Homo sapiens: one gene and its partners. The protein of the gene in region 3 purifies or fractionates together with the protein of the main gene of each other region. This does not show direct contact. Each region holds a gene or a part of one and is shown on either strand. Other genes may lie near its edges.

What was found. Proteins that work in one complex are often made in the same cells at the same time.
Region 1: the proteins of SLC30A5 (region 3) and PIGQ purify together in Homo sapiens (affinity purification with mass spectrometry; one large-scale study listed by BioGRID and IntAct). This does not show direct contact.
Region 2: the proteins of SLC30A5 (region 3) and DIPK1A purify together in Homo sapiens (affinity purification with mass spectrometry; one large-scale study listed by BioGRID and IntAct). This does not show direct contact.
Region 4: the proteins of SLC30A5 (region 3) and MGAT4B purify together in Homo sapiens (affinity purification with mass spectrometry; one large-scale study listed by BioGRID and IntAct). This does not show direct contact.

The regions. Positions count from the first base shown.
Region 1 is NC_000016.10:572,968-576,467, forward strand, and holds part of PIGQ (phosphatidylinositol N-acetylglucosaminyltransferase subunit Q), read left to right. Parts: intron 1-1,098; 5' UTR 1,099-1,107; coding exon 1,108-1,796; intron 1,797-2,871; coding exon 2,872-3,003; intron 3,004-3,166; coding exon 3,167-3,287; intron 3,288-3,500. UniProt on the Homo sapiens protein: Part of the glycosylphosphatidylinositol-N-acetylglucosaminyltransferase (GPI-GnT) complex that catalyzes the transfer of N-acetylglucosamine from UDP-N-acetylglucosamine to phosphatidylinositol and participates in the first step of GPI biosynthesis.
Region 2 is NC_000001.11:92,849,963-92,853,462, forward strand, and holds part of DIPK1A (divergent protein kinase domain 1A), read right to left. Parts: intron 994-3,500; coding exon 886-993; intron 1-885.
Region 3 is NC_000005.10:69,121,514-69,125,013, forward strand, and holds part of SLC30A5 (proton-coupled zinc antiporter SLC30A5), read left to right. Parts: intron 1-180; coding exon 181-382; intron 383-1,685; coding exon 1,686-1,912; intron 1,913-3,500. UniProt on the Homo sapiens protein: Together with SLC30A6 forms a functional proton-coupled zinc ion antiporter mediating zinc entry into the lumen of organelles along the secretory pathway.
Region 4 is NC_000005.10:179,800,489-179,803,866, forward strand, and holds part of MGAT4B (alpha-1,3-mannosyl-glycoprotein 4-beta-N-acetylglucosaminyltransferase B), read right to left. Parts: exon of another isoform or gene 1,624-3,378; coding exon of another isoform or gene 1,482-1,623; coding exon 1,296-1,481; intron 1,207-1,295; coding exon 1,066-1,206; intron 980-1,065; coding exon 846-979; intron 466-845; coding exon 419-465; intron 110-418; coding exon 1-109. UniProt on the Homo sapiens protein: Glycosyltransferase that catalyzes the transfer of GlcNAc from UDP-GlcNAc to the GlcNAcbeta1-2Manalpha1-3 arm of the core structure of N-linked glycans through a beta1-4 linkage and participates in the production of tri- and tetra-antennary N-linked sugar chains.

The sequences.
Region 1 (3,500 bases), on a different chromosome or scaffold from region 3:
GGGGCTTTCTGTGTCTGAGGAAGGCGAGCGGCCCAGCCAGCCGGCCAGTAGTGCCCCCACCGCTAGGGAGTCCTCCTGCCCTGTGGGGCCCCGCCAGGGAAGGCATCAGTGGAGAAGGAGCCCCAGCTGGCTGCATGGCTCCGCAGGGGCCTGTGAGAAAGGGGGAGGAGAGGCCCAGGGCCTGGGAACCGCGGTAGCTCAGGTGGCTTCCTACTCAACAGCCACCTTGGAAGGCTGGTGTCCCTCAGCCTGAGAGTGCAGGATGCAGTTTCTCCACACCTCCGGGACCTGTAAGCCTCTCTCTCCCCGTTTCTAGGCACCCATGTCGTTGGAGAAATATATCCTGGAGAGAAAATGCTCCCTGAGGGAGCCCTGCCCTGGGGTGGCTGTGGGGATGTCAGGGAGGGCCAGGCACTGCCGGGTGCCACCGTGGGCGGGGGTCAGAGTGGAGGCCGAAGCCCTGTGTGCCCTGAGCAACGAGGCAGGTCCTTCCTGCCCCCAGGGAGGGGCTTGTGGGAGGCAGGGACCTTCTGGGGGGCTGCCCGCCGTGCGCACGAGGTAGTTTCCACAGCCCAGCAGCACATCATTTTACATTTTCATCTTTATTCTTGCTTAATACGTGAATCATGGTTTGTCAAGGTTTCAATTGGCGTGACCTTGCTAATGAGATTGTACAGTTCTCCTCGTGCTACACCTTTAAGCACACCTCTCTAATCAGGTTTCTTAAAACTAAGAAGCCTGGAGTTCGGTTCGGCCCCACAGCCGCGTCAGGTGGTGCCGAGGAGGCCGTGCCCTGGGCCGGCCTGGAAATGGGAGGGCAGGCCTGGTGGCTGCATGTGCGTCCTGCCTCGTGCGGGTGGGGCTGAGCTGGGCCTGGGGTGGACTTGGGGCCAGCACTCTGGCTGCCCCTTGGAGAAGCATGGCCCACGCGAGGCGGCAGCCAAGGAGCCCTACGGCGTCCACCACCGAACTTGAAGCTGAGGTGCCCCGACCTGGGGCCCTGTGGCTGCACCTGTCAGGCCGTCTGTGCAACATCCCGCAGCCCACGGTGGGGGGGCAGCAGCAGCTCTGAGCCGAGCCTCTCCTCTTCTCTTCCAGCCTCCCGGCATGGTGCTCAAGGCCTTCTTCCCCACGTGCTGCGTCTCGACGGACAGCGGGCTGCTGGTGGGACGGTGGGTGCCGGAGCAGAGCAGCGCCGTGGTCCTGGCGGTCCTGCACTTTCCCTTCATCCCCATCCAGGTCAAGCAGCTCCTGGCCCAGGTGCGGCAGGCCAGCCAGGTGGGCGTGGCCGTGCTGGGCACCTGGTGCCACTGCCGGCAGGAGCCCGAGGAGAGCCTGGGCCGCTTCCTGGAGAGCCTGGGTGCTGTCTTCCCCCATGAGCCCTGGCTGCGGCTGTGCCGGGAGAGAGGCGGCACGTTCTGGAGCTGCGAGGCCACCCACCGGCAAGCGCCCACTGCCCCCGGTGCCCCTGGTGAGGACCAGGTCATGCTCATCTTCTATGACCAGCGCCAGGTGTTGCTGTCACAGCTACACCTGCCCACCGTCCTGCCCGACCGCCAGGCTGGAGCCACCACTGCCAGCACGGGGGGCCTGGCTGCCGTCTTCGACACGGTAGCACGCAGTGAGGTGCTCTTCCGCAGTGACCGCTTTGATGAGGGCCCCGTGCGGCTGAGCCACTGGCAGTCGGAGGGCGTGGAGGCCAGCATCCTCGCGGAGCTGGCCAGGCGAGCCTCGGGACCCATTTGCCTGCTGTTGGCCAGCCTGCTGTCGCTGGTCTCAGCTGTCAGTGCCTGCCGGTAGGTGTCCCGGGACAGGCAGGTGGCAAAGAGTGGGGTCCCATGAGTGCTGGCCCATCCCTTTGTCTGCAGTGGGCACAGAGGCCCAGATGCGCTCTTCCTGGGCCCGGGCCCCCTCCCACTCCTGCAGCCCGGGCTTTGGCCCCATCCTGCTCTCCCAACCCTCGCCTCTCAGAGGGTGTCCCTCACCCCTGGGGTAGAGCCAGGTCTCTGGGCAGCCTCAGGGATTGCCAGGGGCCCTCCCAGAAGGTGTAGAGGGTGAACCTCAGTGGCTTAGGTCCCTGAAAGAGAAATCAGAAGGTGAGCACAGACATGACTACTGCTGCCTGGGGGTGCTCCTGAGGGCACACAGGCCCGCTGGCCTCCCTGTAGCCCTGCCTGTGCCCCCAGCAGGCCTCTGGACACTGCAGCGCTCATGGGCTGTGGGGGTGTCATCCACTTGCTGGCCCCGTGTGCCTGGGGGAGTGGTCTACAGGCCCTGCTTCTCTCCACAATCACAGGTGCTGCTGGCCAAGGGTCAGTTGAAGCCCAAGGGCCCTGAGGGGCACGGGGGTAGCCCCGAGCTGTGGCTGAGAACAGAGGGCCCCCTTCCACAGGGGACCTCATCTGCCTGGCGGAGGTGCCCCATGGGGAGCAGCTAGGGGTCACCTGCAGTTGCCCCCTGCCTTAGACCCGGGGGTGCATACTCTGGAAGCCTGGGGTGAGAAGCTAGGCCAGCCCAGGAGACCCCGGGCAGCTTTCTGGGCCCTGTCGGCGGGGCGAGGCCCTGGGCCCGTGGGAGTTGCTGCTGGCTGGCAGGCGCTTCTTGGCACCGGCTCTGGGAGCATGTGGTGACCAGGTGGCCCGGGGTCAGCACCTGCGAGGAGGCCAGGCTCCGTGTTAGTCACGTGCACTGTGAGGTGGGCGCGTTGAGCGCTGCCTACCACCACCTGGGCCACCGAGGGCCCCTCCCACCTGCCCCCTGTCCTGCTGAGCTCAGGAGTGTGGCCTGGGTGTTTGTGGTCCCCTGCACAGTGGGGGACGGTGGGAGGAGGATCTGGAGAGGGACACATCACTCCTCTCCACTCCCACGCAGAGTGTTCAAGCTCTGGCCCCTGTCCTTCCTCGGGAGCAAACTCTCCACGTGCGAACAGCTCCGGCACCGGCTGGAGCACCTCACGCTAATCTTCAGTACACGGAAGGCGGAGAACCCTGCCCAGCTGATGAGGTGTGGGCCTGCCCTGGTCTCTGCAGGGCTGGGTGCGTGCCCTCTGGCCCCTTCTCCATCCCCCTCTGCACCACGCTGACCCCTCCGGCCAGGCAGGCCTCCTCCTGCGGCCCCAGGCTGTGCTGGCCACCCTCATGCCGGCCGGGCCGGACCTCCCTTCCAGGAAGGCCAACACGGTGGCCTCTGTGCTGCTGGACGTGGCCCTGGGCCTCATGCTGCTGTCCTGGCTCCACGGGAGAAGCCGCATCGGGCATCTGGCCGACGCCCTCGTTCCTGTGGCTGACGTGAGTGGACTGGGGTGGAGCCCGGTGTCCCGGGTGGGCGTGGGGACCCCTCCTGGGCAGCAGAGCCTTCCCGGGCCAGAGCCACCGCCCCACAAAGCCAGTTCTACCTTCTCCATGCTCTGGAGACACGGCCCTCCCCTGAACCAGAAGCAGGAACTCCAGGGGCGCTGGGGCCTGGGCAGGGCAGGCCTCGCAGGTACACCCCCCTTTCCT
Region 2 (3,500 bases), on a different chromosome or scaffold from region 3:
TTTTTTATTTTTATTTTTTATTTTTTGAGACACTCACTCACTCTGTCACCCAGGCTGGAGTGCAGTGGTGGGACCATAGCTCACTGCAGCCTCAACCTCCTGGGCTCAAGCAATCTTCCCACTTCAGCCTCCTGAGTAGCTAGAACCACAGGTGTGTGCCACCACACCTGGCATTTTTTTTAAATTTTGGAGAGACAGGGTCTCACTACATTGCCCAGGCTGGTCTCAGACTCCTGGGCGCAAGTGGTCCTCCCATCTCAGCCTCCCAAAGTGTTGGGATTACATGCGTGAGCCACCGCACCAGGTTGCCTTAATCACCATTGTATTCCTGGTAACTGAAACAGCATCTAACATCAAAGTGCTGACAGAAAAAAAAAAACAAAACAAAACAGTGTCTGGAATATACTGGGGATAGATTAATAAATATCTTTTGACTGGCCAGGTGTGGTGGCTGACATCTATAATCCCAGCACTTTGGAAGGCCAAGGCGGGTGGATTGCTTGAGCTCAGGAGTTCGAGACCAGCCTGGGCAACATGGCGGGACTCTGTTTCTACAAAAATACAAAAAATTAGCCAAGTGTGGTTGTGTGAGCCTGTAGTCCCAGCTACATGGGAGGCTGAGGTGGGAGGCTCACTTGAGCCTGGGAAGTGGAGGTTGCAGTGAGCAGAGATCTCACCACTGTACTCCAGCCTGGACAACAGATCCTGTCTCAAAAAATTAAAATAAAATAAATGTCTGTTTAATGAATGAATCAAAGCATACAAAATTGAAATACATATAATGTCTCAAAGCTTTGGTTCAAGAATTCTTTTAATAATGCCTTTAATTTCTGGTAAAATTAGAGTACACTATAATTCTGGAATGTTTATTCATAATGGCCATACCTGATTGTTGGGCTTGGTGGATAAACATTTTCCAAAGTAAAGAGTTTCTGTAACACAAAGGCTGTTACATGCAGGCCCATCAATAACTCCAGTCTTGTACTTGTCACACTAAAAACCAGGAAATAAAAAAGTAGTTAATAGAAAAATATTCACAAGAAGAAGCATAAAGAGATATCTATATCCTTTATGAGTAAGTTCTATGACAAAAAGAACTGAGGCTTTGGACTTAGACAGACCTGGATTTGATCTAAGCTCTGTTACTTATACCTATATGATTATGAGAAAGCTTGTTGCTGCTGGGGTGTGCGTAGAATTTTGAAACTATTTTTCCCACATGACATGGTCTAAGGTGGTATGTTACCTACTCCTTCCAAGAATAGAGGCACTCTATCTTTAAAAATGGTTCCGGTTTTAGGCCAGGCACCGTGGCTCACGCTTGTAATCCCAGCACTTTGGGAGGCCGAGGCTGGTGGATCATTTGAGGTCAGGAGTTCGAGACCAGCCTGGCTAACATGGTGAAACCCCATCTCTACTAAAATAAAAAAATGAGCCAGGCGTGGTGGCGGGCGCCTGTAATGCCAGCTACTCGGGAGGCTGAGGCAGAAGAATCACTTGAGCCTGGGAGGCAGAGGTTGTGGTGAGCCGAGATCATGCCACTGCACTCCAGCCTGGGTGAGAGAGTGAGACCCTATCTCAAAAAAAAAAAAAAAAAAAACTTCTGGTTTTAAAATAAATAAAGTTTAGAATAACAAAATAAAGTTACCTCTGTCACATTGTCATCCTTGAGATCACCCAAAAACAAGAAAGGGAAAAAAACCCATCCACTCTCTGAAAAAATATGGTACCAATGAAACCCTAGGCACAATAAATGAGGATGACCTGCCAAATTCAGTGAAGATTACACCAGAGCCTACAAGTATGCTGAGATTAAACACCTGCTGTGGTCCCCACTCTCAGACAAAGTTGGCAGAGCACCAAGTAGGTGGTACATCTGCAGAGCACAACCATTATCCTGGTTGCAACAAAGATTTAAGGGGCACAAGCTGTGGGAACTTCCCAGAACTCTATTTGGCACCATGAAATAGTAAGATAAGACAGGCCTGAATGATAAAATGCTCAGAAATGTTCTCTTTGCTGGAGGCAGTCTGTTGATGAACTACGGTTGGGAGAGAGGGCCAGAAGCAGCTTCACTACCAGCTCAGTTCACTGCCCAGTTGCTTCCCGCACATGGCTGGCTGAAGGAGACCTCATTTCACTCAGTAATGAGTAATAATCAAAACCAAACAAGCAAAAGATCTATACAGCAAATCTACAAGAATTAGGAAGAATGGAATAGGAAAAGCAAATGTCAGATAAAAAAAATTTTCTAGGCAGGGTGCAGTGGCTCACGCCTATAATCCCAGCACTTTGGGGGGCCGAGGCAGGTGGATCACCTGAGGTCAGGAGTTCGAGACGAGCCTGACAAACATGGAGAAACCCCGCCTCTACTAAAAATACAAAATTAGCTGGGCGTGGTGGCGCATGCCTGTAATCTCAAGTATTCAGGAGGCTGCGGTGGAAGAGTCGCTTGAACCCTGCGGGGGCGGAGGTTGCAGTGAGCCGAGATCACACCATTGCACTCCAGCCTGGGCAAGAAGAGCGAATCTCCGTCTCAAAAAAAAAGAAAAAAATTTCTAGAAGAATGTTGCTATGAAACAGACCAAACATATTGTTATGAATTTAAAGGACTTACTGAACCAGTTTAAAATAAGACTTCAAAGCAGAAGAAATGATGAGGCAATAGAAGGAAGTTTAAAATAAGCTAACAGAACTCAGACAGGAAGGAAAATAAAACATCTAGAAATAAAAGCCACATTATAAATGAGGGGAAAGACAGACAGGGATAAAACACAGTAAGATTTAGGAGGACTAGGCCAGGCGTGGTGGCTCATCCCTGTAATAACAGCACTTTGGGAGGCTGGGCAGGCAGATCGCTTGAGCTCAGGAGTTCAAGAGCAGCCTGGGCAATACAGCAAGACCCCATCTCTACAAATAATACAAAAGAATTAGCTGGGTTTGGGGGCACATATATGTAGTACTAGCTACTTGGGAGGCTGAGGTAGGAGGATCGCTTTAGCCTGGGAGGCAGAGGTTGCAGTGAGCCAAGATCACACGACTGTACTCCAGCCTGGGTGACAGAGTGAGACCCTGTCTTAAACAAACAAAAACAATAACAACAACAAAAAACTTTGGAGGACAAGGTTGAGAAATGCAAGCAAAATGAAATGGAAATTTAAAAATAATAAAATGAATTTAAGATAAATGTATAGATAAAAAAGACAAAGTATATCCACCATGTCCATATGAAGGAGAATGGGAACTGAAGGAGAATGGGAACAAGTGGAAAAGAAAAAATATTCAAAGTAGAATTCAAGGGAAACTTCACATAAATTAAAACACTTTAATCTATAGATTGAAAGGACATACAATGAATGTCCCAAGAAAAACTGACAAGAATGACCCCTGTGACATATCCCACTGAGGTTCACTGGACTTCAAAAATAAGTTATCCTTTGAGCATCCAGGCAAAAAGATCAAGGCACCTTTAAGGGGAAACCAATCAGATTGGCCCCAGA
Region 3 (3,500 bases):
CTAAAATGTTCTAAAATTCACATTTTTAAAATTTTGGACTTACTGAAACTTAGTAAGGTTTTACTGTGAATACTTTCAAAACTGTAAACAGAAAAACATATATAGCTATATAATAACTTTTAAATAACAAGTCTATTTTTAAATTACTAATTTAAAGGTTTTTTTTCTCCCTTTTGCTAGCCAGTCTCAGTTGGAGGGCTGATAGTAAACCTTATTGGTATCTGTGCCTTTAGCCATGCCCATAGCCATGCCCATGGAGCTTCTCAAGGAAGCTGTCACTCATCTGATCACAGCCATTCACACCATATGCATGGACACAGTGACCATGGGCATGGTCACAGCCACGGATCTGCGGGTGGAGGCATGAATGCTAACATGAGGGGTGAGTCCTTGCAAAATATTATCCTACTTTTCAACTGTGTTCTAAATCAACCCTCTGTGTTTATTTGTATTAAGTTTTGGGCTTCTGGTATGATATGATTTTTAAAAAGCAATCTGTGACTAAAAGAAAGGTCTGAAGCTATCACTATAGAAAATATTCTTACCTGAATACACATAAAATTAAATATTATTCAGCCTTTAAAAAGAGGGACATTCTGGCTGGGAGCATGGTGGTTCACGCCTGTTAATCCCAGCAATTTGGGAGGCTGAGGCGGGAGTACCACCTGAGGACAGGAGTTCAAGACCAGCCTGGCCAATATGGTGAAACCCTGTGCCTACTAAAAATACAAAAATTAGCCGGACATGGTGGCAGGTGCTTGTAATCCCAGCTACTCAGGAGGCCGAGGCAGAAGAATCGCTTACAGGTGTGAGCCACCATGCCTGGCCGTCACAGAAAATTTTTTAAAAAGAAAATGAGGCTGGGAACAGTGGCTCACATCTGTAATCCTAGCACTTTGGGAGGCCAAGGTGGGTGGATCACCTGAGGTCAGGAGTTCGAGACCAGTCTCTCCAACATGGTGAAACCCTGTCTCTACTAAAAATACATAACTTAGCCAGGTGTGGTGGCAGGCGCCTGTAGTCTCAGCTACTCAGGAGGCTGAGACACGAGAATCACTTGAACCTGGGAGATGGAGGTTGCAGTGAGCCAAGATTACGCCACTTTACTCCAGCCTGGGCAACAGAGTGAGACTCTATCCAAAACAAAAAGAAAATGAAAATATATTTGTTCTTAAATGTTAGTTTTTAAATGATTATAATTATATAGTCCTTTTCATAGTGACAGCTGAATAGATATTAGTTGCAAGGTAAACACAGTGTGCTATTATGAACCTTCATTACAAAAAGGAAATTCTTACTCCTTTTTTAGAAATTTTTATTGCACTATAAAAAAAATGGAGGAAGTACTAATCATTTATTTTGCTGAATTGTTTATTCTGATTGCTTAATATAAGTAATGTGGGTAATGTCAAAACTTGCCTCAAGTATGATTTTTGGGAAGCCTTTCCAGACAAAGTACACCATAAAATTTGGCACGCTGTGTCATGAGTGCCTATGTCCTTATATTTTTACCACTGTATTCTGAATTCCTTGAGGGCAGTGACCATGTTTTAGGCATTTTGAAGTACTAGCCAGTAGCAGAGTATGTGGTGCACAGTAGGTATCCAGTAATATTAGTAGAATGTATTAAAAAACTAAATTAGATGTGCCTTAATTTTTAATGTCCTTATATATTTTATTTGTAGGTGTATTTCTACATGTTTTGGCAGATACACTTGGCAGCATTGGTGTGATCGTATCCACAGTTCTTATAGAGCAGTTTGGATGGTTCATCGCTGACCCACTCTGTTCTCTTTTTATTGCTATATTAATATTTCTCAGTGTTGTTCCACTGATTAAAGATGCCTGCCAGGTTCTACTCCTGAGATTGCCACCAGAATATGAAAAAGAACTACATATTGCTTTAGAAAAGGTACTGTATGTAATTTCTTCACTACTTTCTTCCTTGAAAATCACATTTTTGAAGTCTTTGCTGGAAGTAAAACAGACAACCAAATAAATAATAAAACAAAACGAGGCCAAAAAAGAAATATAAAGTAGCATTTAAAATTTAATAAGTTGACCTAACAAGAAATATGCAAGATATAAATGAGAAAAATACAGTTTTACTTAAAGGATATAAAACAGGGACCGAATAGATGGATGAGATTTTCTTGGATGAGAAGACTCTTTATTATAATGATGTTGATTTTATTTTATTTAGATTTCAATTTAGTTGCCTTCATTGGATATTTTTGTTTATGGTTTGGGATGTTCTAAAATTATTTGGAACTTACTTGGAAGAGTTAGCGCTTGAGAATAAGAAAACATACATAAACTTACAGAATTAATTAATAGGATCCTACTTTGCAATTATAAAGTAGCAGAATTAAGTGACAAAACTAACAGTTTAGATCGAGACCATCCTGGCTAACAAGGTGAAACCCCGTCTCTACTAAAAATACAAAAAATTAGCCGGGCGTGGTGGCGGGCACCTGTAGTCCCAGCTACTCGGGAGGCTGAGGCAGGAGAATGGCGTGAACCCGGGAGGCAGAGCTTGCAGTGAGCCGAGACCACGCCACTACACTTCAGCCTGGGTGACAGAGCGAGACTCCACCTCAAAAAAAAAAAAAAAAAACCTAACAGTTTGGTCCTTGCACAAGAATAAAGACATAAATCAACTTTTAAAAAAATAATAAGTTCCCATTCTTGTGACCTGGGATTGTTTCCTGGACAGCACAAAAAAAAAAATAGTAACAATAATAATAGGTTGTCTGTAAAAGAAGAAATAATAAAAAATGAAAATAAATGAAGAATTATGGTATGTAATGTAAAAGAAGAAATAAAAATAGGTTGTCCAGAAACAGACCCAGGAGTTTATGGAATTCAGTATATAGCAAAGATGGTATTTTAGATCACTGGGGAGAAATAGTTGACCTAAATAACCAGCTTTTGGTTAATTACTTCTTTACTTTGTGGGGAAAAAAAAGCTATATCTCTATACCATATTATATAAAAATACATTTCCAGTGGATTAAATATGTAAATGACAAAAAAATTATGAAACTACTAAATAGAGAAATATTTTTGTTTGTTTGTTTTTTGAGACAGTCTTGCTCTGTTGCCAGGCTGGAGTGGAGGGGCGCAATCCCAGCTCACTGCAACCTCCACCTCCCGGGTTCAAGCGATTCTCCTGCCTCAGCCTCCCAAGTTGCTGGGATTACAGGCCTACCACACCCAGCTAATTTTTGTATTTTAGTAGAGATGGGGTTTCGCCATGTTGGCCAGGCTGGTCTTGAACTCCTGACCTCAAGCTATCCACCCACCTTGGCCTCCCAAAGTGCTGGGATTACAGGTGTGAGCCACTGCACCCCGCCAGAAAAATATGTTTATAATCACAAAGATAGGGAAAGACTTTTTAATATACTTGAAACCAGAGGCCAAAAAGGGAGGATAAAATTTACAAATTTGACCAGTTGAAAATTGCCAGTTGGTGGAAGATTTCATTAACAAGTATAAAA
Region 4 (3,378 bases), about 110 Mb from region 3:
TCTCTCCTTGGGGTCCCCAAAGGACTCTCGGAGGCGGGAGAAGTCAGGGTAGAAGTGGGGGGAGGGTGAGATGACCTCCAGGAGCCCAGAATGGATCTCCGTGGGGAACCTGGGGGACGGGAAGGCCTAGTCCGTATGCAGCCTCCAGGGGCTGAGAGGGGCCGAGCCCACCAGACTGTGGCCCTTTCTTGAGGCTCACCCAGTGCCAGCCCCCCACCACCCCCTACACCCAGCCAACTGAGGTAGCAGAGCTCCAGAGGGGCTGGGCCACTTCTGCACACCCACCCCTCCCCCACCAGGTCCCTGCCTCCCCACGAGATAGGAAAGGCACTATCTCATGGGGAGGCAGGAACCTGCCAGCACAACACCCCGCACCGAGCTCTCCCGCCACCAGCTCTCTGGGGTCGCCAGTACTCACAAGGCCTTGATGTTCTCTGTCACTGCCGAAGTGTACTGTGAGTCAGTCTGTGGGGAGACCAAGCACCCTCCCTTAGCCCTGCTGCTGCCCCAAAAGGCCTGGAAGGGCTTGGAGAAGGGGCACAGGCTTCAGATGCCCCCCACGTGGAGGGAGTGAGCCTGCTGTGCTGAGGGCGGAGTAAGGGGGCCCCCAGAGACGGCCCTTTCCCTTTGGGACTCGCATGGCCAAGGACTAGGGGGTGGCGGGGGCGATGGGTAGGGGTAGAGGGTGCCAGAAAGCCCTTTCAACTTTCTATCTCGGAGCATTTGCGAATGAAACTAGCAACTGAACTTCCGACAGCTTTCTCCTCGGAATGGTTCCTGCTGTCAGTTCTGCACCGCGGGGGCTCCTCTGAATGTCCCCCAACCCCGCGTCCCGGCTCACTCGCCTCGGCGATCAGCACCACGATGACCGAGTCCTCCTTCTCCTGCGGGCTCAGCTCGGAGATGAGCGAGTGCAGAGTGTCAGTCAGGTACGAGTGCACCTCGCGCCGCACGCTCGGGATGCCCATCACCACCGACACTATGGGGGACGGAGGCCCGACGCTGGAAAGGGTGCGGGGGCCACCCGTCCCCCCACCCCGTGCTCCTCCCTGTCTGCGCCCATACCTCCGGTGCGGCCCTGGCCCACGCGCACCGCGGGCTGCAGACTGCTCTCCTTGGCCAGCAGGTGTGGCAGGTGATGGAAGACGGTGGGCAGGTGCAGCACGTGCCGGTGTGAGCCGTTCCACGGCTTCAATCGGGGGTCCTCTGGGTGGGTCGGGAAGGATCGGGACTGAGACCAGGGAACCTACAACCAGCCCGCCCCCGCCTTTTCCCCCTCCCGCCCCAGACCTCACCTGTTAGGCGGCCCCAGGTGCGATTGCCGTCTCCGTCTCGCAGCGCCTGCCTTTCTGACACGGCCCTCTTGATCTCGTCCAGCACCAGGTTGAGCTCCTTGGAGCGCTTGAGGCTCTCCTGCTCAGCTGCGTGCAACCGATCGCGCAGCGCCAGGAACTCCCGCTGGTAAACGTCCACAACGTCGCCTGCAGGTGGTAGGCAAGCCGTCACGAGGGGGCGGTCTAGAGCCACCCTACGGGCCCCTCCAGTGTGCCAGCGCACACATCTGGGTGTCCACCTCTGCAATAGCTCATTGACATCTGTTCTTGTGCCTGCCACACGTGACATAGCTGGGGTCACTCTAAAATTACACTGACACTAATGCTCATGGGGAGAAAACCAGGGGAATTAGCCCTCTTCCAGTACTCTCCCCCACCGGGGGTTATTTTATCCTCTGAGAAGGCATCTGAAGTGGAAATACGATTTCCAGACCTAGGTAGGTGGATCCTAAGCAAGGGCTGGAACAGCCTCAGACTGAATCCGCTCCATCCGTTGGCCTCCAAAGCCCACTCTTGCTTTTTGCAGCACACGCTCCCTCCAGCGGGTGGGCTACCCAAGGTCCTGGTGCTAGCTCTTCACTGTCCTTGTAGCGGTCGCTGGTTGCTCACCCTGCACTGGATTCTTAGCCTCACGATGGCCCCGGGGGGTGGCTGCTGCAGTTCCAGGAGCCCACCTCACTTCATTGCTCAGGTGAGCAAATGAGGTTGAGAAACCGGCCCTGGGGCTGCTCAAGGACAGTCAACAGCAGCGAGGGGACTAGCTCTGAACGCCCTGGTGCCTGTGTCTCTGGAGACCTGTGCTGCGCCTGGGGCACCCTGAAGGGTCCGCATGCCACCCCAGGGGGCCCCTGTCAGAACCTCCAGCTGGGCCCAGGCATGAGGGCTGTAGGTGGATGGGGCAGCACAGAGGTGGGGCTGCCCGACAGTAGAGAGGCACCACCAGTCTGGCAGGGACCAGTGAGCAAGAATGAGATCAACAACCTCCTGGTGGCTCGGTGCCCACAGTCCACGCAGCAGGACGCTCCAGGCCTCTGCCAGGCGAGTCTCTGAAAACCTATGTGGCCTACAAGGCCTTCTGTTTCCAAGTCTCCAAGTTTAAGAAGCCTGACCGAACTCCCTCTACACTCAGGCAGCTCTTCCATTCCTTGATCCTTGGTGGCTTCACAGACCCCAGAGTTGCGTGGGATGGCCTCACCCCACCAGCAGCCCTGTGCATGATCAAGGTCATGATCAGGCAAAGTTCAGTCACCTCAGGGCACACCCCTTTCCGAAACGGGCAGGAGGTCGAAGTGCCAAGTGACCAGGGAAGAGGAAGGGGTGGACCTGGGCAGGAGGGAAAGGTTTAAGGAGCAGGGAGCCAGGTAGATCTTCCCTGAGGCATCTCTTACCCAAGAAGCCAGCCCCCACCCTCCACACCCTGCCTCTCTGGGGCTAAAGGCTGAGGCAAAGCGGAGCCTCTGGACAGCCCCTGGCGGGAGGGAAAGGGGAGTCAGATTACTGGCTCTGCCAGGCTCCACGCTGGGCTCAGGGGCTCGGTTACCCTGGAAACCTAACCCCTTGAATGCAGAGCTGGCTATCCCCAGGGCTCACCCATTGCTGGGTGACACCAGGTGTAGGCAGCACTCGCCCACAGGGATGGGACTGGAGGTGCAGAGGCCTAGAGAGCCATCAGGAATGGGTTCAGAGCCACCTGCACCTGCAGGTGCGCCTCCCTCCTGCCTAGATGCCAGTCCCCGCTTGCCTACTTACAGCCACTGCCCACCCCCACCCCCGAGCCCCACCCTGGCTTTCTCTGTCCCACACGACTGCCTCAGATGGACAGGCTGGGTGGGCAGTGGTGGGTGATGCTGCCTGAATCACCCTGGCAACAGCCTGCGCCTTACCCTCGCTTCCTTCCTAGGGGCCTCCCCTCTCCCCCGGGTCCTGTTTACCAGGAGATAAAGGGCCCCACGGGCTCCCGCCCACACCAACCCTTCTGTCATTTCCCTACACACTGCAGGCCCTGGCCCTGGGCAGCCTCCCCCGCCTGCCAGCTCCTCCACCC